Linked DNA regions of Homo sapiens. The protein of the gene in region 2 purifies or fractionates together with the protein of the main gene of each other region. This does not show direct contact. Each region holds a gene or a part of one and is shown on either strand. Other genes may lie near its edges. The genes, in order: KDM4D, FARP1, NSRP1, SDC3 and HAVCR2.

Region 1 (6,321 bases), on a different chromosome or scaffold from region 2:
ACACAGCAGGGCAGTGGGATATAAAGACAGCCCGTGGACTTAGGGCACAGGGGCCCAGCTGCACCCAGAAGCCTTGACAGGATGCTGGAGCCCTGGGCTCAGTGGTACAGGCTTGTCCATCAAAGCCCCATCCTCAGGTAGGGGCTCAGGTTCTGGGCCCGAAGCTGTGCATGTTGTGCCCGCCAAGAGGGGCCTCTTGGCTGGAGTCTGGAGGGTCAGCTCCTGAGCTCTCAGTTTCTGAGGAGGGCGACCACGACCACGTCTGCCATTTGACGGGTGGATAATCTGTGCAGATGGACCAGGGGTGGATGATGGAGTTGAGCTGGGCTTCTTAGAGCTGTGGACAGCAGCAGCCCGGGGCTGCGTAGCAGTGCCACTAACTGCAGATCGGCGTGGGAGTGAAGAGCACACAAGGGTGTGGCACCGTGTCCCACTGCGGGCAGCCATAGGCCAAGGGGAATGCCGGGCCCAGTGGGAAGGGAGTTGTCTCAGGCCCAGCGCTGCTCTCCTGGGTAACTGGACTTCCTTCTGGGTGCTCAGCTCTTGGCTGGCTGGTACCCTGGGCTCCATGTGGTCCACAACTGCCCGGTCTTGCCCACGTTTCCACAGGTCATAGCGTTCAGGTTGCAGGATGCGCACGAAGGCATCCATGGAAAAGGTCACCCTTGCCTCCCCACAGCTACACTGGGAGGCCATTTTGCCATAATCAATCCATCGCGGAGTGGCAAAATTGATGGCCTCTGCGCAGTTGAAACCATGGTTGAAGCCAGCATGGTAGCCATAGGGAAAGGTCACCATGAACTCTCCAGCCTCCTGAGTTATGCGATTGAAGGGAATCCCATTTTCCTTGAGAACTGTAGGCGAGATGAGGGCCACCTTGTGCCGCAGGAAGGCCCCACAACCCCGGGAACTGCCTGGGAAGAGCTCCCTGGCCAGGCGTTCCAGGCGCTGGCCATGTTCTGGGGGCACCACATACCAAGTTTTGGGCTCCCCAAGGTGCAGGTAGTTGATGCTGTAAAGGTCCATGTCCTCTGTATGCCAAGCAAACGTGGTTTTCCACATGCCAAAGTACAAGTAGGGTGTATTGACGCCTTCTATGACAACCCCACATTCCTTTTCCAGCAGGTCCTGAATTGTTCCCAGGTGCCCAAGATTCCATTGTTTAGTGTTTTCATCAAACAAGGAGCCACTGATGTCAGCACCATAAATCGGTGAATTATAGATGCGGTTCTTCCAGTATTTTCGCTCCAAATCTTCGAAATTCTGGTGTGGTGGAGTCTGATATTTTTTACTGTTTGCCAAATGGCGATACTCCCCCACAGTCATGGCTTTCTTTTTTTTATGGTATTGAGTAAACACCCCTGCCCGCCCAGAGGCCACCTGCTGGAGGGGAGTGGCTATTAAGATTTCACTGATATTATCATAGGTCTCTCTGGCTTTCCATTCTTTGGGTGGAATTATCTTAGCCAAGCCAGCTCTGTGTGCACCTTGGGATTCCATGTAAGCAATATATTTATCAAAATCATTAAACTCTTCTTTGGTTGGATGAAATATCATTATGTTACAATTTGGATTCTGGGCACAGTTGGCCTTAGACTTCATAGTTTCCATTTAATAAGCAGTAAACTCTTAGTTTTTAGGTATGTTCTAGATAGTTGACAATGTAGGAAAATGCTACTTTAAAAAAAAATTTGACTGGTGTTATCTATGAGGTAGCAGGATCTACCAGCGTACTTTTTTTTTTGCAAATGAGATGATAATCTTTCTTGGGCTTGTTTATTCACTAGTGAGATTCCACTCTGGGCAGCAGCTTTGCCCAGGCATTGACGTTAGCTGATCCTGCAACTCTGTTATGTTTCGGTTGCTGCTGGGCTCTGTCTTCTTAAGTCTATTGAATTACTCAGACCTGGGGGTACGACCCAAATGTAGCAGAGAATGTCCTCAGTGTTTAGAACAAAATCTAAAAGAAAGAATACACAGAGATTAAAAATTGATATTTGGAAAAAATATTAGGCATCCAGAAATTAAATACCAGAATAGAATAATAATATTACAAAGAGAGGCTAAAATTTTATAAGATTGATAATTCAAGTGGAGGTGTGGATGTGGAACAGTGGGAATTTTCATACCCTACTACAGAGAATATGAAGCACTATAATCACTTTGGAAAACTATTTGGACAGTTTCTTCTAAAACTGAACATACATATGTTCTGTGATCCAACTGTTCCACATGCCTAGGAAATGTGTATGGTTGTGAGCTGAAAGTCACATCCAGTAATGTTCATAACAACATTGTTTCTGGTAGCCAAACACTTAAACAACCCAAATGTCCATCAGCAATAGAATGAATAAGTACACTGCAGTATATTCACACAACAGAATACCATATAGCAATGAAGATAAACCAAAGCCACATGAAAATGCAGTTTTATAAAGATCAATATTGAGTAACATTATCAAGACTCAGAAGAATACCTATTACACAATTGCATTTATATAAAGATGAAAAGGAGGCAAAGTAATCTATGTTTGAATTGCTTCTTGGCCTTTTGGCTAAGATCAAGTGTAGTAATCTATGTTTGAAGTCAGAGTAGTGGCTACCTTGGGAAAAGAGGGGTTGTTGTGTAGGGGGGCTTGAGGGGATCTCTTGAGTAAAGTTAATCTGTTCAGAACCTGGGTGCTGGTTTCATACCCATCAGAATAACTCATTGTGTTAACTCATCAAGGTATGATGATTTTCACAAATTTCTGTATGTTCATTTAAAAATAGGGTTTAGGAGGAAAAGCGTTAAAGACAACTAAGAGGCATATTTCATTGTATTAAAAGGAAAAGAAAGAACGACTGAAAATAAACTATACATTCAAGTGATAAAGGCAAATTAGAGTTAAGGGAAAGAAAGAGGAAAGGTACGGAACTAACAAAGAATAAAGATGATGTGTTTCCTTAACTCATACCGTGTGACTTTGCAGTATGTGTCCCCTATCCCTCGCACAACTGGTATCAGCCCTACATGGACCAATCTAGCATGACAGGAATTTTCCCCATAGAGAAGGGCCATTCAAAAGAGATGAAGAAAGCAGATAGTAAGGTTCCATCAGGGTTAGGATTTTTCCAGGCAAGTATACCTCAGTGAGAAAGGGATAAGGTTGTTGATGGGTTGAATGGAGAATGAACCATTATATCTATCCTGGATAAAAAAGGAAATAAGAACTTGAGGGAGGTTCGTGGGCTAGATTTCTCTATTTAGTCAAATAGTCCTGTTAGGACACTAGGAAAGGGAAGCTCAAAAAAGATTGGGATGCTCGAAACAGATTTTTTAAACTAGGGGCAGTTTTTAACTGAGTGCCTATTTTACTGATGTCTTGACATCTTCCTGAGTTTTGACTTTATGCTATTATTCAACTTCAAACTGTTTCTCCCCTCCCACATTCTCTCTCCCAAACTTTCCCTTCTTCGTCAGTTCTTAAGTTCCACTCCTTCCCAAGTAGATGAACTTGACTGTTCATCTTCCTTTACTGTCCCAACAAAACAGCACATCTTCTTTCATATCCTGTAGTTCTCTTGCCACTTATCACTTCTACCTTATATAATGTGAACAGTGTCACTTTTATTTAGCACTTCATTTAGACAGACCCCTTATTAAGCACTTTATAGTATCCTATTCAAAACTCACAACTAATCTATGAAGTTGGTACTATCATTATCCCAATTTTATGAAGGAAGAAACCAAGGTATAGAGAAATTTATAACTAACTCAATAGCTTGTGTTTTCAGTCTCTACAATTATGTCTATCCTTGACTTATCTTCCATATAAAAGTATTGAGAACATAATCTGTGTCTTGTTCACTATTGTGTTTTCCAAGAATATTGGTTTTCTTATATATTGTAGGCACCCAAAACATTTTTATTAATTAAATGAGTTGGCACACACTTCCCTCTGTCACCTATTGATTACACCCCATGTTTCTCACTGTTCTCCGTCCTCTCAGGAGAAAACACTGCTTTCTAGGGCTAATTTCTCCATTTGAACTCCTTAAATCAACATTTCCCACTTGGTCCAGGACTATGTTGAATTAAATAATCAGTTATTTTTCTCTTTATTAAATCATCAGTCATCAATCTCTTTCCTAATTTAAGCTACTGTCCTTACTCCCTCTCTCCCTCCTCTCAGGCTCCTCTCTCTCTCTCTCCCACCCAACCCCAGGTCCTGCCCCCACCTTTCTACTGACATTGTTCTCCATAAATCATCAAACTGCCTCCCAAATTCTGCTCCAGGGGTTACACTTCACTGATTCACAGAACCAGTGGTTCTGTGAACATCTGGTTCACAGAACATCACTGGTTCACAGAACACCTCCCCCTTCCTCCTAAAACTCCTACAACCTCCAGGGCACTGATACTTCTTTTAACACTGGTTCTTTTCTTTCTTCTGGGTTCTACCTCCTCTTCTACCACACACATGCAGACATCTCAAAGTTCAATTTTTATCCCTCTTAACTTTCTTTCTCTCTTAAAATTTCCTATTTATATTCAGGGTTTCTGTTAGTACCATGCTGTTTCCCTTTAAACATGTTATTTATTGTCATAACTTTCTCCAATAACTGACTCTCTCCTAAGCTTCTGCTCTCCTTCTCCAACTTAGATGGCCCAGTGAGCCCCTGAAAGTCAACTGGTTTAATACAAATTGATGATCTTTCTCCTGAAACTAAGTTACTCCTTTATATGTCTTTTATTTCTATCAAGGGCAATAATGTGTTATCGTAGTCACCACTGACTATTACATCTCCCTTTTCCCAGACATATGGTCAGTGCCTGTCAGAGGATCCAATGATAGTCTTCCATGAGGCCCCAAGGACATCTAGACACCCCAGGGTGTGTTCTCTTTATCTTCCTTATAGAAGAACCCAAGAATCCAGCTTGTCTTCCTCTCCTACTTAAAGCTGTCACTACTCAAGCGAGACACTGAGGATGTACAAGTGACAAGATTACCTGTATCATATGATAGTCTCCCAATCTCATCCCAATTTTTTAATCTTAAAAATTATTCTACAATGATTTTATTATAAATTCTTTATATTTTTGGAATATAAAATAAAATATTTCATTCTTTCTATTAGAAAACTTGCTCTAAAGAAAAGAAAAGAGAAAAGTGAGACAATTTAGAAGGATAATTAAATATCAGAAACTTAAATATCATGCTGAGGGTCTTTCCCTCAAGAAGTAACAAAATGCTGACTATGAAAATCACACAAACCTATATATTTTTTTGAATATACAAGTAAAATAAGCTTTGGGTTGAGCACTTTGTATCTGTTTTATAAACTGCGTTACTTCTTTTCTACATTTCTAAGGATTCTAGGAAGAATGATGCAATGTCTCCTTATACATATAGTCTTCAGATGTTGCATATCAAAAGAAAATACTACAATTTGTAAGTGTGACTGCGCTCCAAAAAAAAAAAAAAAACTGCTTAGAATTTGCCAGGTACAATGATGGAGAGATCCTTCAGTGTTCTAGCCAAATGTGTCACTTCTCTATGAGTCTTCAATGGTTGCTTTTGTTGTGAGACTACTTGCTTCTTTCAACTGGAACCATAGCTACCAGTAGAGAATAATTACACTGTCACTTGATACTCTTCCATTTTACCCTTACCCACAGTAATCACAATAAGGCAGAATTCGTCATCTAAGAAAACTTGACAGTTCTGACAACCAAAGAAAAGTATTTTCTTATCAGAATAATTAAAAAATAATACTTGATCCCTTAAAATTAATGGATTTCTGGAAATTAGAAAGTCTTTCTTCGGGTCTTTTAGAAATAATGCCTCCTAAGCTTCTTGCTGTGTGTGTGTGTTGGGGGGTGTTAAACTGGGCAAGTTAAGAAGTGAAGCTGAGTAAGTTTAACAGTCCCTTTCACTGCAGCCCTTGCCCAAACTGTTTGTCTTTCTTGCTGCATATGTATTTCAAATCTATTACTTCAAGTGGGGGATTGTTAACAAAATGCCTCAGACATCAGCCCTTGTTTCTTCTGACAGTCAATATCTAAATGCTATGTTTAATCAAATTTTTTTCTCAGTTAGAAAATCTACTACTTATTTAAAATAATTTATAAGCATAATATATTTGATAACTGAAAAAATTCTACTCTGTGTAGACAAGTGATTAAACTTATCCTGTATTATTGGACAGCTATTTTGTTTTTACTTTTGCACGATTATTACTAATCACTTTTACTTAAATATGTAGTCCGTATTTCAGTATCTAAAACAGTACATCCCGTAAAATATTGGTTGAATGAATGAAATTTCTTAGATTAGA
Region 2 (6,321 bases):
AGGCATGTGCCATTGTGCCCGGCCTCCAGAGCAATTCTACACACTCTTTTGGGATGCAGTAATATGCATACAGAAAGGAGCCTAAATGTGGCAGCTGCCTCTGGGGAGGGGAGAAGGGAAATTACCAGAGCTGGTGGTTCAAGGGGGTTTTACCATGTCTGTAACGAGAGCTGCAAATAAAAGAAGAAAAAACAACCCCAGAAACAAATGTGTCCAACTGTTAATGGCCGTTAATTCTAAGTAGTAGGAATCTGGGTGTTTGCTGACTTCCCTGTACTTTATTGTAATTTTTAAATGTATGAAAATGAAAAAAGTTTTTTAAAAACGCTACATGCAGTAACTAGTTCTTGAGGCCTATCCTCCGCTCCTTTACCCTCCTTGGGTTCTGCTGCTCCTCCTTGGAGCATTGGGCTTGGGAGCTGGCTGGCTGGCCAGAAACTGCTTAGCAGCTATGAGACCTGGACTAGTTATTTAACCTACTGGGGACTCAGTATCTCCATCTTTATAAAGGGAATAAAAGAGCACTGACCTCACAGAGCTGAGGTGAAGACTCAATGAGTTCACTCAGGCCCAGTGCTCGGAACAGCCTGGCACACACTAAGGGCTACAAGTGTTTGATAACACCAACAACAATAATAATAATAAATCCTGTTTCTGGCTGGGCATGGTGACTCTTGCCTGTAATCCCAGCACTTTGGGAGGCCAAGGCGGGAAGATGGCTTGAGCCCAGGAGTTTGAGACCAGCCCTGGCAACATAGGCAGACCCCATCTCTACAAAAATTTAGCTGGGAGTGGTGGTGGGCACCTGTGGTCCCAGCTACTCAGGAGGCTGAGGTGGGAGGATTGATCGAGTCCCAGAGGCTGAGGCTGCAGTGGGCTGTGATCACACCACTGCACTCCAGCCTGGGCAACAGAGCAAGACCCTGTTTTGAGAAAGAAAAAATCCTGTTTCTGCTCATCCAGATTTACTTGATTTAATTAAAATGTTCATAGACATGCTTTCAATACAAATCCCAAAATATTGAAGGACTCACCAGTGAGCTAGTTTTTATCATGCTTCATCCCCCACTGTGATGTCCTAAGCCCTTCTCTCCTTCCCCAGTATGTCCTCTCCCGCCTCCCCTAGTCCTTTCTGTCTGTTCTCATCTCACTCTCGAGGGTGTGCCCCTGGGCTCTAAAACCTTCCTCTCTAACACTGGACTTGCTGAGGATGACTGAGACTATCATTTACAACTCAAGGGACATCAAGTCTGAAGTCTGGGTAAAGAAATATTTAGCAGCAACAAACTGTTACCTGGCGAGTCTGAGCCTTCTCAGACTGGAAGTAGCATTGAAGCTTCTCTTACCTTTCAAACTGCACCTTCTTATGTCCTCCTTCTTTAACATAGTCGAGAACCTGCTTCTGAGTCCGACCACTGAAACAGAGACCACAACAGGGAAGGGGAGAAATACCAAGGCATTCTCATTTAAACACACAAATGATGCTTCAGGGCTTCACTTCCCCTCCTTCCCTAACTGGGAGAGATGCAGGGTTGCTTGGCTAGCCAGGACTAAAAGCAATCCTGACAGACTCTGTATTTTTGGGTCCACTCAGTCTCTTGATATTTTCCTTGAATATACAGAAAAAATGTTCAATTAACTAAGCCCACTTGATAACTGTGTTTGGTTACTAAGCAACCATCCCAAGAGCCTGTGCCTTTAGTGAAGGCAGGGATCACTGGGCTCAGTGCCTGGAACAGTATTTGACACATGGCAGACAATGATTTGTTAAAAATGAATGGAAAAGTTCACCAATAACATCCAAGTCCACATATTCTATGAAGCAACACCAAATGTTAGTAAGACACTGTACTTCTACTGAGAGAGAAATCCTTTCTGAGTTAGAGACTCCCGCTAGGCGTTTACCATGACTGGGTGGCTTTGCCTGGTGCCTCTGCTGTTCAAACAGAGCCCACTGGGATTAAGATACAAGCGCCCCCGCTTGGCCATAGCTCCTGGAGGCCAATGAGCGTTCACCTCCCTGACCTGCTGTGTGTCACAGCGGCTGTGAGAGGCGGGAGGAAAAACGTGCACCCAGCAAACAGAGGCACAAAGTGGCGACCTCACCTGAACCGAAATGATGACCCCCGGCTAAAGAGGACGGGCTTGGGCTTTGGTTTGGGCTCTTCAAAAAGTCTAAAGAAGGCATGATGTTCAACACAGATTTTCCAGAAGGACTTGCAGAAATCCCGACTGGCCATCAGGAATTCCAAGGTATCCTGGTACGCACTCTAAAAAGGGAAAATACAACGGTGGTTTTTTCCATTACCCATAGATACACCACTGAAATAGGAGAAAAGGGGCAGAAGATAGCTTTGTCCGATAAAGTTTTCGCTGTGTATTTTATTATAGCATGACCATCAGTGCAAAGACTTACTAAACTCTAGTTATTCTTAAGGACAAGATGTGGTCCCTAGTCCATCATTTTCTTCCCCACAGAATCTCTTAGACGGGTAACAGAAACAGCCACGTGGCTTCAATGGAAGTGACACCATTTTTTGACAGATTTCATATACAAATTATGTTTATTTGGCTTACATTTCCTTGAAAAACAAAACCCAGATACTGAAAGTCCCTTCCTGCCTCCTTAAAATCACTGAAACGCAACGTTCATCCTCTTCCTCATACTTCGTGTCAATGTTGGCTCTTACGTCGTTTCTCTGTGAAGTCGCCCACGGCTCCGGGCTCCAGGCCACCCCAGGAACTACACAGGAAATGAATTTTTTTTTCTGGAGCACAAAGTGTCACTCTTGGCTGAAAAAAATCATGCCCTTTGATTCTGGAAAGGGGATATAGAAATTTTCTGCTCCCAATTGAAGTGGCCATATTATATAAACAAAAGTTACTACTGTCCTTAGCATTCCCAGCAGTTCTAACTATTTTGGGGGATCTCACAGTTTTGGGTGGACCCAACTTACAAACAAGCTGTGCTGCAGTTCTTTATCTATAAGGCAGCTTTTTGGAACTCCAGTGAATTTTTCCATGGAAAACCATTTAAAATGGGTATATGCTTCCCAGGTCGGGCCATGAAAACCTACTGAACCCAGACTGTAGCTACACTATAAGCCTAATTGCCATTTATCATCTTCTTTGCCATGGGAAAAAGAACTCTACACGCTGGTTGGGGACAGACGCCCAGGACACATCACCCACCTCCTCCGTCGCCATTTCTGGCAGACAAAGAAGAGGCTTCTCCTCCCTTCCCGTCCCAGTCCTGGCGTGGGCCACAGTGTTAGGCGTGTTGTGGGAAGTAAGTGGGGAAGGGAACCTAATTAGCCCATGAAAATGAGTTCCACTGGGGGCTCAGGGCCTCCAGCAGGGATTGGGGAAGTCAGTCTATGCCTGGGGTAGGGCAGGATACTGAATGGGGTCTCCAGGTGTAGCCTGGGGCTGGATGCACAGCAATAGCACAGCTCAGGTTGTTTATCAGGAGGGGCTGCCTGAATCTGCGCAGGGAAATGACCCTCTCCCCAGGTACATGTTCATGTACCTCCTTTACGCTCTCTGTTTACCAACGATGACAGCCGTAGAGTTACCGACCATTTGGATACATCTGTCCTAGAGACGCTCGGCGTTCATGTGGACAAAAGCACCTGGGTAGCACTGGCCAGAGGTTCAGCAGAAGCCCTGCCAAGCAGACCTCCACCCCTTGCAGGACACACGCCATCCCATGGCTCAACGGGTCCCCTTTCCCGCCAGGACCACTTACATTGGCATCTGGCCGGAGCTTGATGAGAAAGCGCTTCCTCTTGAAGCTCAGCTTCCGCACCTTGGCCCAGTTGAAGGCATTGATCTTAGTGAAACCCTAAAAAGAAAGACAGTAGCAGTGAGCCAGGAAATGCATAACAAGCAACTTGGGAGTTGGTCTGTTTTGCTTATGGGAGCTAAAGGAAGAGGGCTGGCAGGCGACTGCTCAGTAGAGATGACTTTTGCAGAGAACTCACAGGATCTGTGGCTATCGGATGATACCTGTTCCTGGATCATTATTTCTCACTAATTATAGGATTTTGGCATACAAACTAAGTCTGCCTCTAGGGAGAGAAGAAACTAGCCAAGATAATGATGAAAAGAAAGATAAATAGAAATAAAAACCATGACAACCACCACAATCATTAGCTGCCAGGACTTAGGAAGCGCCAGGTACCATCCTGAGGGCTTTATATACTGTATCTTAACAACCCTGATATGATAAAACCCAGCAAGATGGACTTACTATTTTCATTTTATACACATGGAAACTGCAACGTGGATTTATTTTAATTTGCTGCAAATGACACGTTTAATGTGGCAGAAAGAGACTTCCAAGCACACGCCTTCCTGGCAGCTATGGTTAACATTCAGCAGGTTTGCAATCAACTCCCTGCTTCATCCACGCTGGTCTGGCTCCTGGGCCCATCAAGCTTCCAACAGCACCGGTAGAACTGAGGATGGGAGGCCAGGCCTGCTGTGTGTCTTCAAGGCCAGCACAGTCTCTGGGCCGGATTCACATGTCTTCATTGTCTTTGGCAGCCAGGGAGTCATTGTCTCCATCCAAGGTGGAGAAACAACGGGGAGCTGCCGGATACCAACTCCCATCTGCCCAGTCTCAGCTGAAATTAGAATTCCTCTGGAGCCCACTGGAACACCAGGCCTGTTCATTTAACGTGGCAAGAATGAAGCAATAGGGCACTGGCAAGAAGGTGGGTTCCGAGACACAGGCTTTGCACGTGACTACATTACCCAGGTATTCCCAATACTTAGGGATTGTGTCAAACACAATCAAAGCACATTAATTCAATTGTGAGACACTTCTTTTCCTTCTTAATACTTTTTAGAAATGGTTCAGGATTGTGATTTGAAATTTAATGATAGTACTCAAAACTCCACTTGGCTTTATTGTTTTTCTTTTTGAGACAGTCTTGCTCTGTCACCCAGGCTGGAGGGCAGTCGTATGATCTTGGCTCACTGCAACCTCTGCTTCCCAAATTCAAGCGATTCTCCTGCCTCAGCCTTCCAAGTAGCTGGGATTACAGGTACACGCCATCATGCCCAGCTAATTTTTGTATTTTTAGTAGAGACGGGGTTTCACCATGTTGACCAGGCTAGTCTCGAACTCCTGACCTCAGGTGATCCACCCGTCTCAGCCTCCCAAAGTGTTGGGATTACAGGTGTGAGCGACCGCGCCCGGCCTATTGTTTCTCTTATCCGATACTCAGAGGCTATGCGTGCAGGTCAAAAACTGTCAAGAAAAAATCCGCCTTGAATACCACACTGCTCTCACAATGTCACTCCCTACTACCTGGCAGGAAGCCAACTTAACTCTTCTTGGGATGTGATTTGTAATAATTATGCTGTCATAAACTTCTGGTGCATGAATAGAGAATCACTGGAACTCTTTTGATAAAAGATAAGGGGGAAATATAAGCAAACCTGGAAGAGCTCAATAAAGGGTTTTAGGTCCTGAACATATTTACAACTTCCTAACTGGGTGAAATCTGATCCTATTTCATGAGAAAGGCGGGTGCTTTCTCTATATCCCTTTGAAACTAAAAGCACAGGTTACCCACTTGTGTTGAAAAGGAATGTACTGAACAGCCTTTTGGGGGTGATGAATACGTTCATTCTGTTGGTTTTGTGGGGAATTTTACAGGATATACATATATATAATAAAAACCTATCAAACTATGCACTTCAAGTGTGTGCACTTTATTGTACGTCAACAATACTTCAATAAGGCTACTAAGAGAGAAGCATTGATCAATGAAACAGTCCAATAGCAGAATGATCAATAGAGCACACATTTTAGAGTGCAGAGAATCATTATGTCTTTAAGTAGAATACAAGTAAGAATTCAAGTGCAGTATGTGTTTTGCTACAAAATTGCAAGAATGTGGCTTTTATGAATTTATAAAACTGCTGTATCTTAAAAGTGTGCCTAACACTCTTTAAGTATATCTGAAGTCCCGACCAAATAAGCTGGCTCAAGCCAAACTGTGTTTGAAAAAAAAAAAAAAAAAAAAAGGATCACATTACAGCAAAGTATCATCTGTAAGTGTGAAAAAGGTGTTTATTCGGGGACCTAAAATCTCGATTCCATTAGACTGTGTTCTAAGTGTAGGTCCATGGAGAGCTACATGTTTCTGTGATGCTACAAAGTCAATAAAACCAAACAAATCTGTAATGTGGATTCCCCAAACAGGGCAAAGGTAAGTGAAATAGAATCTGGGAGCTGAGGGCCTGGGAAACAGAAAGCCTGAGATGAGGTTAATTTTTCTTTGTTCGCCGAAAAATAACCATCAGAGG
Region 3 (6,321 bases), on a different chromosome or scaffold from region 2:
AGGAGTTCGAGACCAGCCTGACCAACATGATGAAACCTTGTCTCTACTAAAAATACAAAAATTAGCTGGGCATGGTGGTGTGCGCCTGTATTCCCAGCTACTCAGGAGGCTGAGGCAGGAGAATCTCTTGAACCCGGGAGGCGGAGGTTGCAGTGAGCCGAGATCGCACCACTGCACTCCAGTCTGGGCAACAGAGTGAGACTCTGTCTTAAAAAAAAAAATAAGATCTTACTGATCTGCTTTTAATTGTAGTAGTTTTTTTTCTCACACATAAATATATGTATTTAAGATATTTGTTAAAAAGAAAAATATTTTCCCATTCATGATATGACTACAATGTATCTGAAGGAATCTGTTTTTCATTGATACTATGGAGTAGATGTAGAAACAGTACTTAAAATATCAAATACTAAATAGACTCGTTTTTCCTTTAATGTTAATAACATTCTGTGTTTTCATTTTATGTGACTTTCCACTCTAATGGTCAACAGTACATGTACAGTTATAATAATACTTATGTTACTCTAGTAGATGGAATCATACCTCAGCTTTACGTTTTCAGAGGAATCATCTCAGTTGGTGAATTTCCAATAATAGCAACATAGGACACCGTTCAATATTATAAAGTTTAAATCAGATTTATGCTATAGGCTATTTGTACCTTTCCATGCCTTTTAATTCTGTGTTGTCTTGAGACATTTCAGTGTATATCCAGTACTGGTGTTTAAAGGAAAGTTATTAAAGTTTGGAATAAGAGTACCTGAATTGGAATCTTGCTTTGCCATTCACCAGCTGTTTGTCCTTAAATTCTCTCAGGTAATCTGTAGCCTTAACAATTAAAGGTGACTTCTATATGTCATTTAGCTTACTTATCCATTATTTCTGAAGTTGTTAGGATTATTGTAACTACTGTTGTTGTTACTATTTTTAGATTAATATATTTCCTTTCTGGATTTCCATTTAAAATATATTTAAAGAATCATAAAAATTAAACACAAGCAACATCCTTTTATATTCTGCACAGTTCTTAGCAGAATTATAGATTCAAAAAAGACACACAGAATAGGCCACAATACATGTGCCAATTTTTGTTCTCAATCTTAAAATTACATAGTATAATTATTATGGTTATCTGAAAACAATCACGTTGTGCACATGTACCCTAAAACTTAAAGTATAATAATAATAATAATAGTAATAATAATAATAATAAATAAAATAAAATAAGTATCTGCTCTTTTATGAGGAAATTGTTTTTAATTGTAGTAGTTATTTTTCAGTCTGATCTGAATCTAGATGAGTTTTTTATGTTATATAGAAGATCATTTTATATATTTTTATATAGGGTTACTATTACAGAAAAAAGTAAAAGTTTTACTGCTACTCTTTTAAGCTTTTTGTATTTGTTTAAACAGGTTTTTGGCATTTAATCGTCATCCTTAGTGGTAATTGTTAAAGTACCTTTATTTAGAAAATTGAGAATCAAATGACCTTCAAAAGATCATCAGTTTTTCCTGACTTTTTCAGGTTAGGTTCAGAGTTATCCACTGATGCTGTTGAATTCTAGGGATATAAGTTTGTGAATAGAATATGTAAAACTATTGCACTCCTTCCATTATGTTACCTTCCTGTGTAAGTAGTAACAGCTTGTTTTTTCAACGGTCATACTTCATTCTTCTAAACAGCTATGAACATAGAAACAAAATCTTTTGAGGTGTCTCAAAATAGATATAGTCTACATTGGAAAGGCCTTTCTCAGTCTGCTTATTCTATATTTTATAAAAGTCTGGAAAGGTATAGCCTTGTGTTTTTCTTTCCCAAGTTTTCTTTTTAAAAGTTATTTTATTTCTCTGAGAATCTTCCATAACAACCAAGTTACATAGTTTAGATTGAAGCATCCAGTTTGAAAGGCAGCAGGTAAACTCTGACAGATTAAAGGTGACAGACTGAAGGAGGAGATAGGAAAAAATAAAAGCAAGTAAAAGAGGAAAACATCCAGCATTTGGAGATGTAATCTTCTCAGTCAGTCCTGAAGACATCATTAACTCAGTGGTCAAGAAAAATATTTTTCATTCATACTAATCAGAAATACAGACATGAAAATACATTGGAAATATTAACTATTACTTTCAGTTTTGGTATTTAAAATTGATATTCTAGTGAATGAAAGTTTCATATTACATGTAACAGAAATTTGGATTAAATCAGTAATACATGTAATACACAACTAGTATACTTAGCATAGCACCTAGCTCAATAAATGTTAGCAGCTATTACTGTTTTTGTTATCAACATCTTTCCCCCAGTTAGTCAGTTTACCATCACCTAAAATGTCTTTAGTTCTTTGCATACTTATTTAATTTTTTAAATATGTATTATATGACCTTTGTGTATTAAATTGATTTGTCTGTGGTCATAGAGAACTATTTTGTTCTGGTTATTACCATGAAAAAAAAAAAGCACCAATTGCTGGTACAATACAACTGAAGATAGCAAGTGTTAATAGGCTGGACTACTATAATTCTAGAGCTGAGGATTTTGTGTACATATATATATTTAAAACTTACACATATGTTTTTATGTATATTTAAGACTTCGTTTTTTTTTAAACAGCAGTTTTAGACTGACAGCAAAATTGAGAGGGACAGAGATAACCCATGTAGCCCTTGCCCCCACAAATGAAAGAATTAAAAATGCATCAGTAGCTTTATTTTGGCTTTTTTAAAAAGATGTAATTCACATAGCATAAAATTCATGCTTTTATACAATTCAGTGTCAGTATATTTGCAAATCCTGATACTTGAAAAAAATTAATTGTGCATATTAAGGTATATAACAATTATGGGATATAGATGGTAAAAAGTTTACTACAGTAAAGCAAATTAACATGTCCATTATCTTACATACTTTTTTTGTTTCTGTGGCAAGAGCAGCTACAATTTACTCATTTAGCATGAATACCATATATAGTACAATTTTATTACCTATTGTCCTCATGTGGTACATTAGATCTCTAGACTTGTTCATCTTGTTACATACCTACCTCTTCCCATTTCCTCTCACCCCACCCCTAGTAACCATTGTTTTTAAGTTCTTTATCTCTGTGAGAGATTCCACTTACAAATGATGTCAGGTACTATTTTTCTTTTTGTGTCTGGCTTACCATGTAGCATAATGTCCTCCAGGCCCATTCATATTGTGGCAAATGGCAAGATCTCCTTTTTAAAGGCTGAATAATACTCCATCATACATATTTACCACAGTTTCTTTATCCATTCATTTGTCAATGAACAGGTAGATTGTTTCCATACCTGGCTATTGCAAATAATGCTGCAATGAACATGGGAGTGAAGCTACCTTTACCAGGTGGTGATTTCATTTCCTTTGGCTATATGCCAAGAGGGATTGCTAGGCTGTATGGTAGTTCTATTTTTAATTTGTTTATAAACCTCCATACTGTTTTCCATATTGACTGTACCAGCCTACATCTGCACCAGCAGTATATAAGAATTCCCTTTTCTGGCACCCATGCTAACCTTTATTATTTTTTGACTTTTTTAGAATAGCCATTCTAACAGGTGTGAGGTGTTATCTCTTAGTGGTTCTGATTTACATTTCCCTGATGATTAAAGCCTGTACTATTAAGGAAACATATTTTTCTTAAGTATTTTTTTTTCTTAGCTGTATGTAATCTTTAGTTTTGCCCATGTGATGACTACTTCCTATCTTCCTCTTGCATTCTTTTACATTTTTATTCTCTTTGATTCTGGTCTAATGTCATATCTCTTTTGGAAAGGGATTCTTGATTCCTCATATACATTTAGTTGCCTTCTCTGCCCTGGGCTCCCACAGTGCTTTGTTTATTCCTTTATTATATTGCTTATCACATTTATATTGTAATTGTCTTTTTTTTTTTTTTTTTTTTGAGACAGAGCCTGGTTCTGTTGCCCAGGCTGGAGTGCAGTGGCACAATTTTGGCTCACTGCAACATCTGCCTCCCAGGTGCAAGTGATTCTCATGTCTCAGCCTTTCAAGTAGCTGGGATTACAGCTGTGCTCCAACACTCCCGGCTCATCTTTGTATTTTCAGTAGAGACGGGGTTTCACCATGTTGGCCAGGCTGGTCTCAAAACTCCTGGCCTCAAGTGATCTGCCTGCCTCAGCCTCCCAAAGTGCTGGGATTACAGGCATGAGCCACCGCGCCTGGCCATATATTGTGATTATTTCTTTAATTGTCTTCCCTTTCAGACTGTTTATCTGAAAAACAAGATTTTGTTTCAGTCTCTGGCCTAAGACTGAGACTGTTCTTGCTTTTTCACTATCCTCAGGACCTAAACATGCTTTTTGGTACATAGTTTTTGATTATTGCCACGAATAGTTGCTGCTGTCCCTAAGCCTTAAACATAAACCGAGAGCTTGATACACTATATTGAGTGGTGAATATTAAAATAGTTTGCTTTTTGTAAGCTGGGAATCATACCATTTTAGTGTTGGAAGGTACCTGAAATATTATCTAGACCAGTCTTTCCCCATTTCTCACACACACACACACACACACACACACACACACACACACTCCCTCTCTCTCTCTCTCTCTCTCTCTCTCTCTCTCTCTCTCACATGTTCACATGAAGCAAATTGAAATCTGTAAAGGTTGAATGACAGTAGTGAATTTAGGACTAAAAATTCATGTTTACTCATCTTTTCCTGTACCATTCTATTTTCTCTGATACCTTATAATCTATTCTGAGGATTTACAATGCAAATTCATTTATTTCCTGAAGTTTAGGGAAAAAACCCTGAAAATGTTAGTTTAATTTGTATTATTATCTTTTTACTTTTAACTATAAGTAAGGCACCATTGCCAACCAGAAAACAGGTTGAGCATCCCAAATCTGAAAATCAAAAATCCTAAATGTTCTAAAATCTAAAACTTTTTTGAGCACTAATGTGAAGCTCAAATGAAATGCTCATTGGAGCATCAGATATCAGATCTTCAGATTTGGGGTGCTGAACCAGTAAGTATTTTAAAAATCTGAAATACAAAACACTTCTGGTCCCATGTATTTTAGATAGGGGACGCTCGTACTGGAAAAGAAATTTTAAATTTGTTTAAAAAGTGACAATATATTTCTGTTTTACAGACCTCTGTGAGTGAAAGCCTTCAGAGGGAAGCTGCTAAGAAGCAGGCCATGAAACAGGTAAGGTAGAAGACTGGGATAAGTGCATTCAGTGAAGCATTCCGGCTCATTTTTAAGCATCAGTTTTGGTATCTAGGTGCTGAGACTAAAACAGAATAGATTTAAGGAAAAACACAATGAAGAATTAGCTCCTTATTGCTGTGCTATAGATTAAACCAGTTCTGCTTGTAGATGACTCATTAGTCTAATAATGGATTGTTTGGCCTGTTGTTATTATTAAATTCTTGCTAGTGAGCTTACTTGCAGGGAAAAAAAAAACCTTTTCACAACCAAAATGGTTTCACAAACTTATAATTATTTGAAACTCATCTGCCCAGAAAGAAGAATATCAGAGATAGATACAAATATATAGATATATAGATATATAGATTTTTTTTTTTTTTGAGATTGAGTCTTGCTCTGTTGCCCAGGCTGGAGTGCCGTGGTGCACTCTCGGCTCACTGCAGTCTCCATCTCCTGGGTTCAGGCAATTCTCCTGCTTCAGCCTCCCGAGTAGCTGGGACTAAAGGCGCATGCCACCATGCCCAGCTAATTTTTATATTTTTAGTAGAGACGGGGTTTCACCGTGTTGGTCAGGCTGGTCTGGAACCCGTGACCTCAGGTGATCCGCCAACCTCAGCCTCCTGAAGTGCTGGGATTACAGGCGTGAGCCACCGTGCGCGGCCTGATAATTTTTAAAAGACGTGCTTGTTTCCAAGTGCTTTTTACATACATTTATCTTTTACAGTTCTCACAAACTTGCCCATAGTACTGATTAAGAAATCTGAAACTCAAAAAGGATAAAGTGCTCCTTAAGATCATACTATTAATTATCGAACTAGGCCTGAAGGTTTACTAATTTTTCTGCTATTGTAGACTAGTATATCTTAGATTTTCTGCTATAGAATGTAATGAAATTAAACAATAGCGAGGTGCCTTTGTTTTTCATTTTGAATTATTTATCCTCTCCATTAGCTTTATAATTTTTGGTCCTATTTCCTCTTTGTCTAACTGGAAACCTGCATAAAGATAAGTTTATTAAGCACTTTCTATGTGCCAGGCATCATGACAACTATGTTTTAAGAATGATCTTTAATTCTTACAATAATTCTATGAGATAGATGCTTTTATAATCCTTATTT
Region 4 (6,321 bases), on a different chromosome or scaffold from region 2:
GTCAGGTAAAAATGCCCTTCCCCTGCTCCCAAAACAACAGTCCACCTCCCCCCAGCTCTCCAGGAGCCTTGCCTACTCAGGCCCTGCATCCCCCACGGAGCACCCCCAAGCCCCAGCCCAGGGAGGGGGACAGGTCTAATGAGCCGCCCACAGCCCCCTGGTGCCCGCAATCGAATTGGCAATCAGTTTGCTGCAATTAGATTTCCCAGATCCCGCTGGTGATTGATTCTAAATTACCCTCATTAAAGTCTGGGCTGGCAGGCAGGGATGGGGGAGGGCAGGATGGATGGGGGGGTCCTAGCTGGCAGTGCAGGGGGTACAGGAATCTCTAGGGTCGCCTGGGCCAAGGCTAACCCCAGGGTGAAGCAGCACCAGACAGCACCCTGGAAGCCCATGGCCCATCCAAAAGCAGGATGAAGGCCCAAGTCAGTGTTATCCCCAGTCCCAGCTGCACCCCCAGAAAACCCTGGCTAAGTAGGGGATGTGACGACAAGATCAGATGGGGCTCCAGGGTAGGAGAAGGGGCAAATGAACACCAGGCTCCACCAGCTCCTGGCTGTGTGTGCTTTGGCAGGTGGCCTAACATCTCTGAGCCTTCCTCTAAATAAGGGGAATCCCACCAGCCCCTCAAGAGTGGTGGGAGGCTCAGTGGGACCATCTAAGGCTGGAGAGCCAGCCCCAATCCATTGGCAAGGCCCCAGGCTGTGGCTGGGCCATCAGCTGTGGGATGTCAGGCTGTAGGGCTGGCCATCTCTCTAGGACTCTCCACCCCTGAGATCCTGCGTAAACATCAATAGTCACCTACTCTGGGCCAGGGCCCATGTGACAGACAGAACACAGCCGAGATGCTCCCTGGCTGGGAGGAAAATGGAAAGCACCCAGTCTCACCAAGTCCTGGGCTCAAGCTGCAAATAACAAGGCCTCTCTGGAGTTCCAGGAGTGGAAGGGCCTGAAGAGTCATCATGCAGGATGGACTGCAGGCTGCTCAACAGCTCTGGAGAACCAGCCCCCAGAAACTCAGCACCACGGACCCTAGAATGTGCTTCCTCTCATCTGGCTTAAGTCCTGCTGGCTCCAACTGGGAGTCCGGCCCTTGGTCTCCTTCTAAGGGTACCCCCACCCCCAGAGTTCTCCTTCAGGCCATCCATGATTATTCAAACTTAGTTCCCCCTCTCTCCAAAAGAAAACCCTGCTCCTCACCCCCAAGCAGTAGTTCTTCAGTAAGACCCAGAGAGGGACAGAAAAAGAACAAAAACCAAGGCAGGTGAATGGAAAAAAAACAAGATTTGCAGGAGCAGCCCGCTCCTTATTTACTTTAGTACTTTATTTACTTTATTACTTTATATTACTAATTCTCAAGCAACCCTGAGGTCCCATTTTAAAGAAGAGGAGACTGCGGGTTCAGAGAGGTTAGGTGAACTCACCAAGGTCACACAGCAGGAATGTGACAAAGCCAGGATTTCAACCCTGAATCAGCTGGCTCCAGGATCCCTACTCCTTCGATGACTTCAAGCTGCCCCCTCAGGCTTGGGACACCCCAAAACAGACATAGCACCAAGGCCAGGGGTGGGGAGAAGGCAGGCCTCAGCCAGCTGGGGCAACAGGGGTTGTAGAACCCTCTCCACCTGGTATAAAAGGCCAGCATAGGCGTTTCCTGCCCTCCACCCACAGCAGCCAGGTAAAAAAAGGGCCAGATCATTTGTTGGGGCCACCGCCACCCCCACTGCTGGGCCCTCAGCCATGGCCGCTCAGGCTCCCCCTGTAATCACGGCTTCCTGTTTGGCGCTGAGACTGGGCTTGGCCAGTGGGGGAGGGGAGTGGCTGCCCCTCTGGCCATGGCGGGAGGGGGGCCGGAAGTGAAGGCCACCAGGCCTCCTGGAATCTGGGGAGGCTGGGAGCCAAGGGGAGTGAGGGTGTGGGGGGTGCCATCAACAAATATTTACCAAGAGCCAGCCCGATGTTCCCAGGATGTGATGTTATGGAGGACAGAGGCCTGGAGGGGCCAGTGAGACAGGTCAGGAAGTCCAGGACCCTGCTCCCTGCTGGGACAGGGGTTTGGGGGGATGATGGGAGCAAGGGCCTGGGGCCTGGGCAGCTCCTGGCTCTGGCCACCCTGTCCCTTGAGACACAAAATCAAAGGGCTCCAAGCAGCTGGGCTGTAGTCCAGAGCCACAGTCCCTCGGTCCTGCCCAGATGTGGTGGTGGCAGTGCCTTGGCACTCAGACTGAAGGCCCGCCCGATGCAGCCCCCTGGCGCCTCCCAGCCCACGGGCACATGCCTTGCATGCAGCAGGACTCTGCCAGCCTCACTGTCCCCAACCCACCTACACAGGAAAGGACACAAGCCCCTGCCTGGGCTCCATAGCTCACAGTCCCGGCTTCCTTCATTCCTTTATTCCCTCATTCATTCATTCATTCCTTTGAATCATTCACTCGAGCCTGCACCAAGCACAGAGTGGTCCCTGGGGGTTCAGTGAGAAAACATGGCAGCCACGAGCCTGCCCAGGAAGCTCAAAGTCTATCAAGAAAGCACTGACATCACTCCTGACAGCTGGGGGACCCCCACCAAGTCACACCCCATCTCTAAGCCTCAATCACTATGAGGCCAGAGAGAATCTTGGCTGCAATGGGGCCAGTGCTCAGAGATGGAGCAGGAGGAACACGGATTTGGCCTCCACACACTTTCTAAGGGCCAGAGGGGGTTAAAGGCAGGCCTGGTCACCTCTGCAGACTCAGTCCCCAACACTGGGGGCATCTGGCACATATCAGGGCTTATGGTGGCTTTTTAGACCCCTCTCATCCTGAGATTCCAAACATTTCCCCTCTCCTGTGCCCTGACCACATGACCCAGACATAAACTCCCTTCCGCATACACATGTGTGGGCACACACACAAATGTACACATGCACGCACACACAATCTTGCTGACAGCCCTTCGCAGTTTATAAAGCTCTCTCTCCCCACCCCATACACCCCCAGTGGCCCTCAGAGTAGCTGCTTTTATGGGCTACAGAGCCTTGGGAGGCGGTAGATGAGGAAGAGCCCTGGCCAATCCCTCCCACAGGGTGAGACAGCATCACTGACCTCCAGGGCTGTGGGAGAATTAAGTGAGAAAAGATATGGGACCAACCCCCTTCCCAGCCCCACCCCGCCAGAAGAGCAGGCATTTACTAAACAGTAGCTAATGCAGACATAATCCAGGGGGTAGGGAGGCCCCAGAGAGGTAAAGCAGCTTGCCTAAGATCACACAGCAAGAGGGGGTAAATTTAGGACTGCAGCCCAGTCCCATTAGCCTGTCAGGCCCTGGCTCATACTAGCTCTGCCACTTCTGGCTGTGTGACTTTGAGTAAGTCACTGAGCCTCTCTGTGCCTCAGTTTTCTCCTCTGTAAAATGGGGGTTCTGGCTGGGGGTTGTGGCTCACAACTGTAATCCCAGCACTTTGCGGGGGCCGAGGTGGGAAGATCACTTGAGGTCAGGTGTTCGAGAACAGCCTGGGCAACATGGTGAAACCCCATCTCTACTAAAAATACAAAAATTAGGCAGGTGTGGTGTCAGGTGCCTGTAATCCCAGCTACTTGGGAGGCTGAGGTGGGAGAATCGCTTGTACTCAGGAGGCAGAGGTTGCAGTGAGCCAGGATCATACCACCACACTCCAGCCTTGGCGATAGAGACTCTGTCTCTAAATAAAATAAAATACTAAAATGAGGATTCTAATAATTCCTACATCAAAAAATTATTGTAAGGATGAAATAAGCCGATACATGTAAAGTGCTTGGTGGGCGGGGCTCTCGGTAAACATGACCTCTCTCTCCCACTTGGGATGAGCCCCCCCTCGCTCTCCCCACCACTGCCACCACTCCTGCTGCCCCGGACCCCCCAGGGACCCTATGCCCGCTTGTATGAGGTGGGAGGAGCCACTGGGTTTCAAAAGGCCATTTTTTTTGTTTTTTGTTTGTTGTTTTCTTTCACTTTTTTTTCCAGCACAGCTCACCTCGCACCAACCCCCAACACACTGAACTCACAGCTGGAGGCATTGTGCTCACTCCTCCCCAGAGAGCAGGAGGCTTCAGGTTCAAATCCCAGCCCTGCCTTGAGGATAGAGTCACAGCCCCCAGTAGTGATTCTAAAAGCCAAGTATTTGTTGCCCCCAGTTGACAGGTAAGAAAGCTGAGGGTCAGGGCAGGTTACAGCCTGCTACTGTCATGTGATGACCACTTTCATTGCTTAGCTCAAAACCCTCCTCCTCCAGGAAGCCTTCCCTGACCCCATCCATGCTCCCTCCCAGAAAGGTCCCATCTCCTGAGAGCTCACTACGTGGCAGGTGTGCTCGGTCTACTCAAGCAGCTCATTTCCAAGTCACAACATCCCTGTGAGGCTGACACCATTACTGTCCGCATTTTATAGACAAGGACTTTGAGACAGAAAGAAATCCCTCACTGGAAATCACACAGCAGGTGTCTGTCCCCAGAGCCCCTGGTACCTTGGGAGCTAACAGGCAGCATACAGCTGTGGTGTCCCTGTGCCTGTCCCCCAAATGCTGGAAGGGGAGATGGTTCACCCAAGAGCCTGGCCCAGAACAGCCCAGGGGCCCCCAACTTTCCATTTTTTTGGTGAGGACTATCTCATCCTGGAAACCCAAGGCTCACAGTCACCCAGGGGAGCCTGGAGGGGAGAAGAGCAGGGATGCTTGAAACAGGGTGAGGAAGGAACGGAAACCACCAGGCCTGGGGCTGAGCTTCAAAAGAATTCCCTACTAATTCCCCCACCCCACCCCACCCCCACCCCCACCCCCATCCGTACTCTCTCTCTCTCACAAACACACACACACACACACACACACACACACACGTCTCCCACCCTTCCACTCCCCACCCCTCCTGCCTTCCCAACCACAGTACAGCAACTTTGTAAAAGAACAAGAAATCCATATTTGTTGAGCCCTTAGTAGGTGCCAGCCACTGGGCTAAAAGCTTTCCAAATTAAGCCCTTCCATTCTCGCATTGTCTCCATTTTAAAGAGGTGGAAACTAAGGCACAGAGAGGTTAGGTAACTTTCACAAGGTCACACAGCCACAAGGTAGTGGTCTCCCATCACTGGGAGTATTCAAACAAGACTAACACCTAAGATCCCTTCCAGCCCTGGACTTTTGAAAGAACATGTTTCAAAAGCTAAAATGTTCAGGATCCTCACACTCCAAAACTTTGAGTGGTGACTTAAGTACAGTAGCTGAGGTGGCCTTAAAGGCAGATGTCCCTCAGAGTCCTGGTAACTTGGTCTGTCAGAAGAGGGACTCCTCAAAGGAGATGCCAGGAGACAGACACAGACACACAAACACACACACACACACACACTGCAATTCACCATCTGCAGTGTGAATGAGGCCTGCTCTCCCTGCTATCCCCATGCTGAAAGACACGAAGACACACACACACACACACACACACACACAAAGGCTGGCAGGTGACCCAAGGGTCATCATGTCCCTGCCCTTCCCTGCCCTGTGCCAGCCACCGCTCATCTACCAAGGCCACCCCTGGAGCTTCCCTGGCTGGGGCTCTTCTGATCTAACCTCAGTCCCTCCTGCTGCAGGCACTGCCCTCTCCCTCTGGTGCGGAACCCCGGCAACCAGGTACCACCCATTAACCCTTTTCCTCCCAAGTCAGATGAGGACAAGAGGGATGATGCCCCTCCTTGACAGCTTGACCCATGGGAAGATGTGAGGCCTGGAGGACACTCCACTTCCCACCACCTCACCAGGCGCCCCAGTACCTGCCCTCCCCCAGGCCCCACCCACCATTTCAGCCTCTGGGCTCAGACTCCCAGGGTCTGCTTGATCTGCCACCCAACACTGGGTCTGAGCCACACCTCTCAGATTCAGGTCACCCGTGTTGCGAGGCCCTACTGTGCATGAGGCTATTAAATGCTCTCACTAAGTCCTTCCACCACCTCGTGGAGTATGAATTATTAGCCTTATTCAGCAAGGAAAGTGGCCTGCCCAGCGCTCCACCTGGCCTCCAAGTCTAAAGCTTTCTGTCCTGAGCCCCTTTCATTCATGTGCACACCACATGACTCCTGAGCTCCTTCTCAGGACACTCGTCAGTCATCCCATTGAATTTTTGCCCTCTGAGGAAGGGGTCATTAGCCCCATTTCACAGAGGGACAACCAAGGGTCAGAGAAGTAAGAGGACCTGCCCAAACCATGCCACGAATCGGCGGGGGTAGCAGGATTGGAACCCAGGGTTGTGTGATTCCCAAGCCTTTGATTTTAAGGATGGTCTTTCAGAAATTTGGCTGAGAAGGCGACCCCAGCTGCTAGGGTGT
Region 5 (6,321 bases), on a different chromosome or scaffold from region 2:
TTCAAGCGATTCTCCTGTCTCAGCCTCCTGAGTAGCTGAGACTACACAGGCACACACCACCATACCTGGCTAATTTTTTGTATTTTTAGTAGAGATGGGGTTTCACCATGTTGACCAGGCTGGTCTCAAACCCCTGACAGGTGATCCACCCTACTTAGCCTCCCAAAGTGCTGGGATTACAGACGTGAGTCACTGCGCCCAGCCAGTTTTTCTTTTATTCTGAGAAGGTAGCAGGGACAGTAAAATTGAGGTTTATTAAGGTATGGCTTTATTTATAGTTAAATACATAAAACTGGCTGGGCACCATGGCTCATGCCTGTAATCCCAGCACTTTGGGAGGCCAAGTTGGGCGGATCACCTGAGGTCAGGAGTTCAAGACCAGCCTGACCAACATGGAGAAACCCTGTCTCTACTAAAAATACAAAATTAGGCCAGGTGCCATGGCTCACGCCTGCAATCTCAGCACTTTGGGAGGCCGAGGCAGGTGGATCACCTGAGGTCAGGAGTTCAAGATCAGCCTGGCCAATGTGGTGAAACTCCGTCTCTACTAAAAATAAAAAAATTAGCCGGGTGTGGTGGCTCATGCCTGTAATCCCAGCTACTCGGAAGGCTGAGGCAGGAGAATCGCTTGAACCCGGGAGGCGGAGGTTGAGGTGAGCCAGGATCACACCCTTGCACTCCAGCCTGGGCAACAAGAGCGAAATTCTGTCTAAAAAAAAAAAAAAAAAACCTCTTCACTTTGAATATTCCTGACTGGTGTCTTGCCATATTTAAAGAGATAAATTTAAATACTCTTTCCCATTAGGATTGCAATGGAAGCAAGAAGAATGGTATTCTAGGGAGATGAAGAATCTTTGAACCTTCCACAGGGTAGACAGTTGTGAAATTGAAGAATAAGAGGGACAAAATGCTAATGTTTCTTCTTTGTGGTTTTCAAGCTCTTACTATATGCCAGGCACTTTACACACATCATGTCAGTCCTTCATTACAGCAGGCCTATGAGGTTAGAACTGTCATCATCAACATGTTACAGCCCAGGAATCTGAAGCTAAGGGAACTTAAGGCTTTTTACCCCAAGGACAAGGTGGGCATGAAGGAAGTCTAAAGCCATGATTTCCCCTCCAAGTTGAGTACAACATAGCTCACAAAAAAAGTTACTTACTGTTAGATTTATATCAGGGAGGCTCCCCAGTGTCTGTGTCTCTGCTATAAAAAGAGAGAGAGAGAGAGAGAGAGGAAAAATAGCCAATAGTATAGTTAAGAACGTTTTCTTTTATCTAAGTTTTTAAAAAATCTTAATGATGCCTATAATCCTATTTGAAATGAATTCTACTCCGTACTTGTCACAATAATTAATGGAGAGACAGACAAAATTTACTGAACACCCAGGAATCAACTTTAGGATGGCCACATTTTTTCATCTAGATAATGAACCGTACTGTTTTATGAAATAGAGACTTCTGCCAGGAAGTCCTACATTAAATATGTGCTTTGTTTTTTTCACAGGACCCTAATGAGTTCTACAAACATCTAGCAATATTGATAAGACTCAGGCATTATTTATTTATTTATTTATTTAGACACAGAATTTCACTCTGTCACCCAGGCTGGAGTGCAGTGGCATAATCTCAGCTCACCGCAACCTCGGCCTCCCTGGTTCAAGCAATTCTCATCCCTCATCCTCCCAAGTAGCTGGGACTACATGCATGCACCACCACGCCCAGCTAATTTTTGTATTTTTAGTAGAGACGAGGCCATGTTGACCAGGCTGGTTGTGAACTCCTGACCTCAGGTGATCTGCCCACCTCAGCCTCCCAAAATGCTGGGATTACAGGTGTGAACGACCAGGCTTGGCCTCAGGCATTATATTCTAATTAGATTTTAAAAGACAACAAAAATTCATTTCCTTCTTTTTTGTTTTTTTGAGACAGTCTCACTCTGTTGCCCAGGCTGGAGTGCAGTGGCACAATCTCAACTCACTGCAACCTCCATGTTCTTTTTCTTTTTTTTCTTTTTGCGAGACAGAATCTCACTCTATCACCCAGGCTGGAGTGCAGTAGCATGATCTCTGCTCACTGCAACCTCCATCTCCTGAGTTCAAGCGATTCTCCTGCCTCAGCCTCCCTGGTAGCTGGGACTACAGGGGCACACCACCACACACAGCTAATTTTTGTATTTTTAGTAGAGACGGGGTTTCGCCATGTTGGCCAGGCTAGTCTCGAACTCCTGACCTCAAGTGATCCACCCGCCTCGGCCTCCCAAAGTGCTGGGATTACAGGCGTGAGCCACCGTGCCGTGCCCAGCCTCCATTTTCTTAAATAAGTTTTGCATTTACTCATGAGAAGGGAGACAGGGTTGCCAACAAATGAAAATAATCACTGTGGTCACAATGTAATAGGAGCCAGGCCTTGTGCTAAATAAACTCTTTCAGTGAAGAAGCTCATTTTAGAGATACTTAGAAGCACTTACTTTAGAACTACGCTTCTAAAGTAGAGACTGTTAGTCCCATTGCACAGATGAAGAAACTGAAAATTAGGGAAGTGAAGTGACTAACCCAAGGTCACATGACTTAGCAAATGACAAAATGGCCTTCCAATTTAGGTCTGCATAGCCTTAAATGCACATTCTTAATTATACTGCCTTCACCAGCCCTTACCTCAGTGCTGTCATTATGAAGAGGGTCACGTTGCCCAGCCACCCACTCACCATCTTTCCTTCCTGTTCATTTGTTTATTTCTTCATCTGCTGATCCATTCCATGAATATGCACTATGCCCTTACTCTAGGCACAGGGGACAGAGCAGGAAACAAGAGGGGCACAGGCCCTGACCTCATGAACACTGAATTCTAAAAATAAGTACATTGCCAGCTTTTGGAAAACTAAGCATGCTTACTCATTTTTATGGCTGAGTCAGAGATGTTGAAACTTCTTAAATGTCACTGTCACCTTCTGGAAGCCTTAATGTGTATAAAGGGTTTGACTAAATGCTGGTTTAGCAAACTATAGTTTAAATATTATAAAGGCATAGCCTCAGCCTAAAATTATTGAAGAAAAAAAGATTATGTTCCAATTACTTTTGCCCTAATTACCAGAAAAAAATTTAAAATATAAAAACCACAGGCCTGGTGCAGTGGCTCACACCTGTAATCCCAGCACTTTGGGAGGCCGAGGGCAGGCAGATCACGAGGTCAGGAGATCGAGACCATCCTGGCCAATATGGTGAAACCCCATCTCTACTAAAATACAAAAAATTAGCCGGGCGTGGTGGTGTACGCCTGTAGTCCCAGCTACTCAGGAGGCTGAGGCAGTGGAATCGCTTGAACCCAGGAGGTGGAGGTTGCAGTGAGCCGAGATCACACCATTGCACTCCAGCCTGGTGACAGAGCAAGACTCCATATCAAAAAAATAAAAAAAAGACCCTCATCAGTACAACTGCTAAGTAAACATGAATCTTAAGTGCACATAAGATTTTAAATGTAAATCCAGTTTCAGACTCCTTATAATTATTTTTCTTGATAAAAATGGTAAAACTAACTTTTTAAAAACTTCATTTTGCTATGAAAATGATCAGTAAAATCAAGCACTGTTGTGTCATTACAGCTTTTTTTCACACAGATTTGGCCACCAACCAAGATGGATGGGACAGTTGAAGGGAGTGGCAATGTTCTTTCTGGAGAAACCAAGATTTGCCTGGTGGGGCAGGTAGCAGCGGAGGTGAGATGTGATGGCCTTAACAGTGTATAAATTTAGTAGTTACCATCTATTTGGTACTTATTAGGTGCCAGACATGGTGCTTAGCACCATATACATACAATCTCATTTAATCCTCAACCACAATAAGTAGGTACTACTATTTTCCCCATTTTTCAGATGAAGATACTGAGTCTGAGAGAGCCACTTTGCCCAAGATCACACAGCTATTAATTGGGAAAGCTAGGATTTAAAGCAGATCTACTCTAGAGCTGAGGACTCACCTGTGACCCAGTCCTTACTCCTTCAGGTAGAAGACAAGTTGCATTTGTTCTGTGTTCAAATTCCAGGCCCTTGGATCTCTTACTTTTAAAGGCTCTACTCCATTTTTTTTTTTTTTTTTTCTGAGAAAGGGTCTCGCTCTGTTGCCCAGGTTTGGAGTACAGTGGCACCAACTCGGCTCAGTGAATCCTCAACCTCCTGAGTTCAAGCAATCTTCCTGCCTCAGCCCTGCCAAGTAGCTGGGACTACAGGCACATGCCACCATGCCCGGCTATTTTTTTTTTTTTTTTTTTTTTTGGGATGGAATCTCGCTCTGTTTTCCAGGCTTCAGGACAGTGGTGAGATCTCGGTTCACTCCTCCCAGGCTCAGACAATTCTCCTGCCTCAGCCTCCTGAGTAGCTGGAATTATAGGCATGCACCACCATGACCAGCTAATTTTTGTATTTTTAGTAGAGACAGGGGTTTCACCATCTTGGCCAGGCTGGCTTAAACTCCTGACCTCAGGTGATCCATCTGCCTTGGCCTCCCAAAGTGCTGGGATTACAGGTGTGAGCCACTGCACTCAGCCTAATTTTTTGTATTCTTAGTAGAGATGGGGTTTTGCCATGTTGCCCAGGCTGGTCTTGAACTCCTGAGCTCCAGTGATCTGCCTGCCTTGGCCTCCCATAGTGCTGGGATTACACATGTGAGCCACTGTGCCCAGCCCCATTTTTATATTAAATGCTCCCACATCCCACATTTAGAGTTGGTTTGCCAGCAGCCAATTTACATAATGTTACATATTATAGACAAACCATTAAATATTCATTCATTTCAATTTTTTATTTTATTTTCCTATTTAGGAGCTACTGACCTATTTTTGGTTGTTTCAATATTTTTTCTCAGTCAGGCCCTTGAGAAGCTCAGAGGTTCGAGGTATTATTCCTATATTCCCATTTTTGTTGCCCTAGAGGGAAGGAACTAACAAACAAAAACTAAAGGGAAGGCTGGGCGTGGTGGCTTACACCTGTAATCCCAGCGCTTTGGGAGGCCGAGGCAGAGGGATCACCTGAGGTTAGGAGTTCGAGACCAGCATGGCCACCATGGTGAAACCCCGTCTCTAATAAAAATACAAAAATTAGCGGGGCGTGGTGGCGCGCGTCTGTAATCCCAGCTACTTGGGAGGCTGAGGCAGGAGAATGGCATGAACCTGGGAGGCAGAGTTTGCAGTGAGCCAAGATCGTGTCATTGCACTCCAGCCTGGGTGAGAGAGTGAGACTCCGTCTCAAAAAAAAAAAAAAAGGAAAGAAAAACTAAAGGAAAGAAGACTTCTGTCTGTGGTAGAGACAAGTATAAGGAAATGCACCACCTCGACAGGGAGTGAACTCCGTCTACAGCAAATGCCCATTCAGTGGTGATGTAGTAAAAAGTACTGGCCGGGCGCGGTGGCTCACGCGTGTAATCCCAGCACTTTGGGAGGCCGAGGCGGGAGGATCACAAGGTCAGGAGATGGAGACCATCCTGGCTAACACGGTGAAACTCTGTCTCTACTAAAAATACAAAAAAGAAAAAAATTAGCTGGGCTTGATGGTGGGCGCCTGTAGTCCCAGCTACTTGGGAGGCTGAGGCAGGAGAATGGCGTGAACCCAGGAGGCGGAACTTGCAGTGAGCCGAGATTGCGCCACTGCACTCTAGTCTGGGTGACAGAGCAAGACTCCGTCTCAATTAAAAAAAAAAAAAAAAGTACTGAAGCACAGGATGGGAAAGTGAGACTAAATGACCCTTGAAGTCCCTTCTAGCACTATGGTTGTAAGATTCTTTAAAATATAACAATGGCATACAATAAGTATCTGGTATAACTTTATTATTTTCTGTCCCCACCATATTTAGTTTCCTCTCTAATTGCATAAAAGATGTTGGCTACCAATCACTAAAGACTAACCAAAGACTGAAACTTTGGAGAGCTAAAACCAGTAACTATAGTAATAATAAACAGTTGAGTGCTTTTTATGGGCCAGGTACTATGCTGAGCATTTTACATACATTATCATGTTTATACATTACAACCACCTCATGACATGGGCACTGGAATTATCCTCATTGTAGAGATGAGCAAACTGAGCTTCAGAGAATTTGAGCAACTTGACTGAGGTCACAGAGCTATCAAGAACAGCTGAAATTAGAACCCATTCCACCTGTCACTGAAGTACTTTAACCACAATCTCACTGTGCCTCCTGATCTTATAATATTAACGACAACAGCTAACATGTACAAATTGTGGTCAGACATTGGGATAAACGTTTTAGACATTTTCTTATTTAAAGCCCATAAGGTGTGATTTATGAGATTTATGACATTATGAGGTGGG

Evidence for each region.
Region 1: the proteins of FARP1 (region 2) and KDM4D purify together in Homo sapiens (affinity purification with mass spectrometry; one large-scale study listed by BioGRID and IntAct). This does not show direct contact.
Region 3: the proteins of FARP1 (region 2) and NSRP1 purify together in Homo sapiens (affinity purification with mass spectrometry, with the first as the bait; one large-scale study listed by BioGRID). This does not show direct contact.
Region 4: the proteins of FARP1 (region 2) and SDC3 purify together in Homo sapiens (affinity purification with mass spectrometry; one large-scale study listed by BioGRID and IntAct). This does not show direct contact.
Region 5: the proteins of FARP1 (region 2) and HAVCR2 purify together in Homo sapiens (co-immunoprecipitation; one large-scale study listed by IntAct). This does not show direct contact.

The regions. Positions count from the first base shown.
Region 1 is NC_000011.10:94,992,663-94,998,983, reverse strand, and holds part of KDM4D (lysine-specific demethylase 4D), read right to left. Parts: intron 1,961-6,321; 5' UTR 1,612-1,960; coding exon 40-1,611; 3' UTR 1-39. UniProt on the Homo sapiens protein: Histone demethylase that specifically demethylates 'Lys-9' of histone H3, thereby playing a central role in histone code. Does not demethylate histone H3 'Lys-4', H3 'Lys-27', H3 'Lys-36' nor H4 'Lys-20'.
Region 2 is NC_000013.11:98,385,906-98,392,226, reverse strand, and holds part of FARP1 (FERM, ARHGEF and pleckstrin domain-containing protein 1), read right to left. Parts: intron 3,845-6,321; coding exon 3,749-3,844; intron 2,271-3,748; coding exon 2,107-2,270; intron 1,416-2,106; coding exon 1,347-1,415; intron 1-1,346. UniProt on the Homo sapiens protein: Functions as a guanine nucleotide exchange factor for RAC1. May play a role in semaphorin signaling.
Region 3 is NC_000017.11:30,167,399-30,173,719, forward strand, and holds part of NSRP1 (nuclear speckle splicing regulatory protein 1), read left to right. Parts: intron 1-704; coding exon of another isoform or gene 705-816; intron 817-1,502; exon of another isoform or gene 1,503-1,527; intron 1,528-5,143; coding exon 5,144-5,200; intron 5,201-6,321. UniProt on the Homo sapiens protein: RNA-binding protein that mediates pre-mRNA alternative splicing regulation.
Region 4 is NC_000001.11:30,900,541-30,906,861, forward strand, and holds part of SDC3 (syndecan-3), read right to left. Parts: intron 1-6,321. UniProt on the Homo sapiens protein: Cell surface proteoglycan that may bear heparan sulfate. May have a role in the organization of cell shape by affecting the actin cytoskeleton, possibly by transferring signals from the cell surface in a sugar-dependent mechanism.
Region 5 is NC_000005.10:157,097,696-157,104,016, forward strand, and holds part of HAVCR2 (hepatitis A virus cellular receptor 2 precursor), read right to left. Parts: intron 1,207-6,321; coding exon 1,163-1,206; intron 1-1,162. UniProt on the Homo sapiens protein: Cell surface receptor implicated in modulating innate and adaptive immune responses. Generally accepted to have an inhibiting function.